Linked DNA regions of Homo sapiens: region 2 is linked to region 1. The links come from fine-mapping of genetic effects on gene expression. A gene starts in region 1. The other region holds a variant in brackets. All regions are shown on one strand. Distances are from middle to middle.

What was found. PIP is the estimated chance that this variant, and not a neighbour inherited with it, causes the effect. A credible set is the group of variants that fine-mapping cannot tell apart.
Region 2: its variant is the best candidate, but not a certain one, in a credible set for the expression of ZBTB45 in whole blood (TOPMed, PIP 0.53).

What each region holds. Positions count from the first base shown.
Region 1 is chr19:58,518,273-58,521,177 of GRCh38, forward strand. ZBTB45 (zinc finger and BTB domain containing 45) reads right to left here and starts at 1,538. Exons shown (of 3, transcript NM_001316979.2): 1 at 1,470-1,538. RefSeq lists enhancers at 1-445, 1,503-1,822 and a silencer at 1,313-1,412.
Region 2 is chr19:58,567,068-58,569,972 of GRCh38, forward strand. MZF1 (myeloid zinc finger 1) reads right to left here. Exons shown (of 6, transcript NM_198055.2): 4 at 2,449-2,519; 5 at 2,210-2,330. MZF1-AS1 (MZF1 antisense RNA 1) reads left to right here. Exons shown (of 6, transcript NR_027334.2): 2 at 1,846-1,928. Among named protein-coding and RNA genes, the nearest start is that of MZF1, 4.8 kb to the right of the region's middle. The variant G/A (reference allele first, on the strand shown) is at 1,499.

The DNA of each region.
Region 1 (2,905 bases):
TAGTATATACAGAGGCTCTCGCAGGAGTGGGGTGGCATGACCTGCTTCCTGGGCAGGGTGGTTCTGGGTGTGCCTAGTCACTAAGGGCTGAGGGTAAAAGGTTGGGCAGTACCTTGGGAGATGCCCCAGGGAAACCAGTACATGCTCCCTGGCAGCCCCTAGCATAGCGAGCAGGGAGGTGGCTCCTGCAGCCCCAGCTTCTTGCCATCTCGATGGGGCCTGTGGGGCCCAGGGTGTGGGTGTGGCACAGAGAGGGGAAGTGTGGATTGAGCAGGGGTGTGTGACTGGATAGCTGCCCATGGAGTAATCGGGGACACGGCCCAACATCAGGCACCAGAAAGGGGAGGGGGTAGTCCTCAGAGGACTCTGGAATCTGAGGAGTTCTGCTACTCCATCCATCAAGCAGGTAAACCGTGATCCTTCGGCCTGTTTCCCCTTCTATCAAACAAGGGATGAGATACTCGGCTCATCCCGCACCCAGACTGCACACACCTCCAGTCTAAGGGAGGAGGGTAGGAGCTCTGGACTCTGACATCCGTATAGGCTCCACCAGCCTGTCTCTCCCTTGGAGTCACAAAGCCCCAGGGTGGGCTCGGCTTGATGCTGCCCCTACACCCTCGGGCTCTACTGGGGTCTCAAGATTCAACCCCTCCGACTCCTTATGCCCAATCCGCCGTCCCTTTGCTCAGCCAGACGCCTCCCTTTTTTGCATGCCCCACATTTGACCCTCAGACCACTTCGAGCACCTCCACTGCCCCGTTCCCGCTGTCCTGGACGGATGAAGAAACCTGGCTGGTGTCTCTGCGCCCCTCGCCTCCCCTTCTGTTCCCCACACGGCAGCCAGAGGGAGCTTTTCCAGACTACGGATCCGGATACACCACCCCGCTCCCTGGCCCTGTTCTGAGCCTTCTGTGCAATGCCTCAAAAAAGCCAGGCCTGTGCCCGCGCAAAGGCTAACTCAGCAAGCAGCACCGCCCCATCTGTATTCACCTAGCACCTGAAAGGATTCTAATCTGTCCGGCCGATGGGGACGGAAACTTGCGCATCAACCCGAGAGACTTGAACCTTCCTTTCCCGCCCCGCCCCGCGACGGGCTCCATTCCTCAGTCCCGACGCCGCAAGGCCGGCCTGGACACTTCAGAACAAAGGCCTGCACTCGAGACCCGGCGCCCAGGCCAGCTTCCCGGGTCCGGCGCCGCACACTCCCGCCACGCCTTCGCCGCGCCGTGTGCTTTACTCCGAGCGCGTTCTCCCATACTCTGCTCCATTGCCCGCGCCCCACCCTACGCCCAAAGCACCCCTCTGACCCGCCGCTGCCACCCCGCACTCTGGCCCCCGCCGTACCCCGGTCCTGCAGCGCCCCCTCGCGTTCTCAGCGTGCGCTTCTAGCGGAGCGCAGGTGCCCCTCCCCTGGCACGCCCCAGCCTCCTCGCCCGCCCTGCGGCAGGGGGATGCCCATTCGACCCCACCTCCGACTCCTCTTCAGGCACCAGGCTCTGCCGTGGCCGCTTCCTCCTGACCGACTACAAGGCCGCACTTCCGGGCCGTTACCCCGGCGGAACGGAGGCCTGCGGTCGCGGCGGCGCAGGGGAAACCCTAGGCCGAAGCACGTTTCCGGTATTTTTATGGCGATCAGCTCCCGCCAGTCTGCACTCCGGCTCTCCTCTTAGTCGGAACCAAAGTCGAAGAGGCTAGGGCTGCCGCGTCGCGAGGAATGTCTGGACCAGAGCACTCTTCCGGCGTCGCCCAGGAGATCAGGGGTGTGGCGGGCCTGCGCGATCAATCCGCAAGCTCCCTGTGATGCAGAATGGGAAGGCAGTTCCCGGCCCAAGTGCCCAACGTGTTCTGGCCAGTTTAAACCCCACTGCGAACCGGGGAAGTGGCCTTATTCCTGTGACACGGGTGAGAGCTGAAGTAGGTCTCGGTCCCTGGCCGCCAGGAGGTGCAAGCAAGCTACCACTACTGCAGACGCTCCAGGCCCGCCCGCTGTGGGTGGGACTGGGGAAAGGACCCCATCTCGGCCTTGGCACCTTCTACTACAACGCAGACAGGAATAGACAACTGCCTCACCCTGCTCTGGGCCTCCCCTGAGCTAGACCCTGTGAGATTCTGGGACATTGCAAGTCAATCTGGTATGGGGGACAGAATTCCGAAAATGGCCCCCTCCGAGATTTCCGTGCCCAAATCCCCAGAACCTGTAAATATGATTATCTCACCTATGAATAGTTACACTACATGGTGAAAGGGTTTTTGCGGAAATAATTAAGGTTACTCATTAGCTGATCTTAAAATAGGATATGATTCTGGATTATTTTGGTAGGTCCAAGGTATCATAAGGGTCCTTAAAGGCAGAAGAGGAAGGTGGAGAAACTTGAAGTAGGAGAAGGGTTCCAGAGGCTTTGAAGGTAGAGAGGTCCATGAGAGGAAATGCAACAGGACAGGTGTCATGCTGAGAATCTGAGAAGAGCTGCAACAACAGCCAGCAAGAAAACAGACCTCATGGCCCGGCGCAGTGGCTCATGCCTGTAATCCCAGCACTTTGGGAGGCCAAGGCGGGTGGATCACGTCAGGAGATCGAGACCATCCTGACTAACACAGTGAAACCCCATCTCTACTAAAAATACAGAAAATTAGCTGGGCGTGGTGGCAGGCGCCTGTAGTCCCAGCTACTCGGGAGACTGAGGCAGGAGACTGGCATGAACCCGGGAGGCGGAGCTTGAAGTGAGCTGAGATCGCGCCACTGCACTCCAGCCTGGGCGACAGAACGAGACTCCGTCTCAAAAAAAAAAAAAAAAAAAAAAAAAAAAAAAGGCCGGGCGCGGTGGCTCACGCCTGTAATCCCAGCACTGTGGGAGGCCGAGGCGGGCGGATCATGAGGTCAGGAGATCGAGACCATCCTGGCTAA
Region 2 (2,905 bases), 49 kb after region 1:
AGTTTTTTGTATTATTTTTTAGTAGAGACAGGGTTTTGCCATGTTGCCCAGGATGGTCTCGAACTCTTGGACTCAAACAATCCACCTGCCTCCGCCTCCCAAAGTGCTGGGATTACAGGCATGAGCGGCTGCGCCTGGCTAAGAAGATTCTAAAAACTCAGGAGTTGGAGGTACCTGGTACTTCTGGCCATGCAAGTGAATGAGCAGGGCACCAGCCAGGCTGGAGAGGCTGTTTCAGAAGCAGATGCTGGGCAGGGCTGCTGCTGTGGGCTCTGTCTGCACAGAATTCTGAGCCAACAGTATGCACTGCCATGACTTACTTCTGGATTTCTTCTCCCATCCTGGCAGAAGGCTATGTTAAGGGTGAGAAACCGTACTGAGAAAGTCAGGGTTATTAGGTAAACAGTCCCATTGGATGCTGAGATGTTAATCTCTTTCCCAAGGATGCTGGCAGGAGGCTGAAGTTACCTTCTTGCAGGATTCAGACGATGGAACGAAACATGCTTGGAGGAAGAGTGCCCCCAAAATGGCCTAGCCACATTGCCCTATGGATCTGTTTGCAGCATCCACTCATACTCAAGCTGCTTGCTCACATACCCTAAGAAAAGGGTCTCCTTGGGGAGTGGGGTTCCCCTATGTCCCTTCCAGCCAGTAAGCCCCACATCTACCTGCTCAGAGCTGTCAGCCAGATTTGTGGTGCCCCTCTCTTGCATATAAGCCAACAACTAGGAGAGAATAGAGAACACACTGTTTTTTTTTAAAAAGTTACTGCTGTTCTCAGAGAAATAAGGAAAGACATTGTAAATGAAAGAACAACAGGAGACAGCTAAAAAGATGAACATTCAGAGAATAAAAACACTCTTGGAAAGTAAAAATATGCTACAAGAGACCAGATGAAGTAGCTCATGCCTGTAATCCCAGCACTCTGGGAGGCTGAGGTGGGAGCATCACTTGAAGCCAGGAATTTAAGACCAGCCCTGGCAACATAGTGAGAACCTGTTTCTACAAAAAAATAAAAAAATTAAAAATGAGTCAGGTACAGTGACACATGCCTGCAGTCCCAGATACTTGGGAGGCTGAGGCGAGAGGATCACTTGAGCCCAGGAGTTCAAGGTTACAGTAAGCTATGATGGCACCACTGTGCTCTAGTCTGTGTGAAATAGTGAGACCCCCTCCCCCCACCAAAAAAAAAGCTACCAGAAATGAAAATCTTAACAGAAGGTCTGAAAGATACAAGTGAGAAAATTTCCAGGAAAATAGAGTAGAAAGACAAAGGAATGGAAAATTGGAGTGAAAAGATAAGAACATTAAAGGACCCATCCCAGATGCCAATAGCCAAGTAAGAGGCATCCCAGAAACAGGGAGCAGAGCAATAGAAGGGAAGGAAATAAAAAAAAATTTCAAGGCAGTTTCCCAGAACTGAGAGATGTGAATTTCAAACTGAAAAAGCTCACCAACAATAGTGATAAAAAAAGGTCTGTGACTGTACTAATAAAAA[G/A]AATTCTTCCAGCCAAACTTCAATCTAATGTTGAGGGCTAGACAATGTGTTTCAGATATGGGACATGTCAGAATTTTATCTTCCACACCAGAACACCCACAAAGCTCCACCAAAACAAAGGTGTGAACTAAGAAAGAGGAGACCCTGGGTCTCAGGAACAGGAAGGAACATAACAGAAGATGGGTTGTAGGAGGAGCCTGGATGATGCCAGACAAAGGTGGTGGCTGAGAGGTAGATGGCAGGGGGCCTCTGGTCCGTAATGCTTCGATGATTGGGCAGGATCCCTATCCTGTGTCAAGGTCCCTCCTGCCCACCTGCTCTGTCTACTAACCTGCTGTCCTTGTCAGGTCCCAGCCCTACCTGTCCTGATGCCTGACCAGCAGGATGCAAGCCCAGGAGGCCATCCAGGATACCAGGACTGGGAGAGAATGTGGGTACGGGGAATACTCGCCCTGCTTGCAAAAGGTTTTACTAGGGTGGGGAGTTTCTAGAAAGTAGAGGGGCTGTGGGATCAGTGGTAGTGGTGGGTGGCTTTTTTTGAGGGCAGAAGATGCTAGAGGAGGTTGAACCTTATAGGGGATGATCTAGGGAATGGGGGAACTTGGGGATGCTGGAGTAAGAGGGCTGCCTGCGTAGGGCCAGGAGTGGGGTCGGCAGAGATGGTGCTGTCCATGCGGAAGGCCTAGTCCCACCACACCCCATCTCACTTACCTGGGGAGAAGATGCCCCCAGCTTCCTCATGCCACAGGGCCCTGGGGTGCTCCCTCCATGAGGGACCCTCAGGCCCAGTCTTGCTGTGGGGAAAGATCTGGTCCAGCACGGTCCCACATCTCTGAAATCACAGTGGTCACTGCTCCTCTGTGCCTGGCTGGGCTCAGGGAGGGACCTACCTGACCCCACCCAGCAACTTCCAGGGAAAGGAGGAGAACATGGACCTGGGCAGGACTTACCTGGGCCTCCTCAGGCAGGAGGGTGGGTACAGACTCCTGGGTGGCAGCTAGAGGCCCAGACTCCAGGAAATCTAGAGAGGAAAACTGGTATCAGGCAGCCTGAGTGAGTTTCCACCCCACTGCCCTTCTTAGTGGTGTGCCAGGTGCTGGGATGCAGAGAGGTGGGATTCTTGGTTGTGGGCTTGGGTTGGGGAGGGCAGTGCAGGGTAGCTGAGGGCCCAGCTCAGGGGCTGGGTGAAGCAGAGTACCCTGGAAGGCCAGGGGTTGAGCTGCAGTGGGATGAGATGGGCTGAGGTTTGTGCCCCTGTAGCCGTATGTGAACCATGGGGCAAGGTGGTCAGCGGGGGTCAGAGGTATTGTACAAGGGTCCACATAGGAATGGCAGGGTGTGAGCAGCTAGTTCAGGTGCCCTGCCTGGGAGGTGAAAGGGGTCATACCCCTAACACTACGAGGTCCT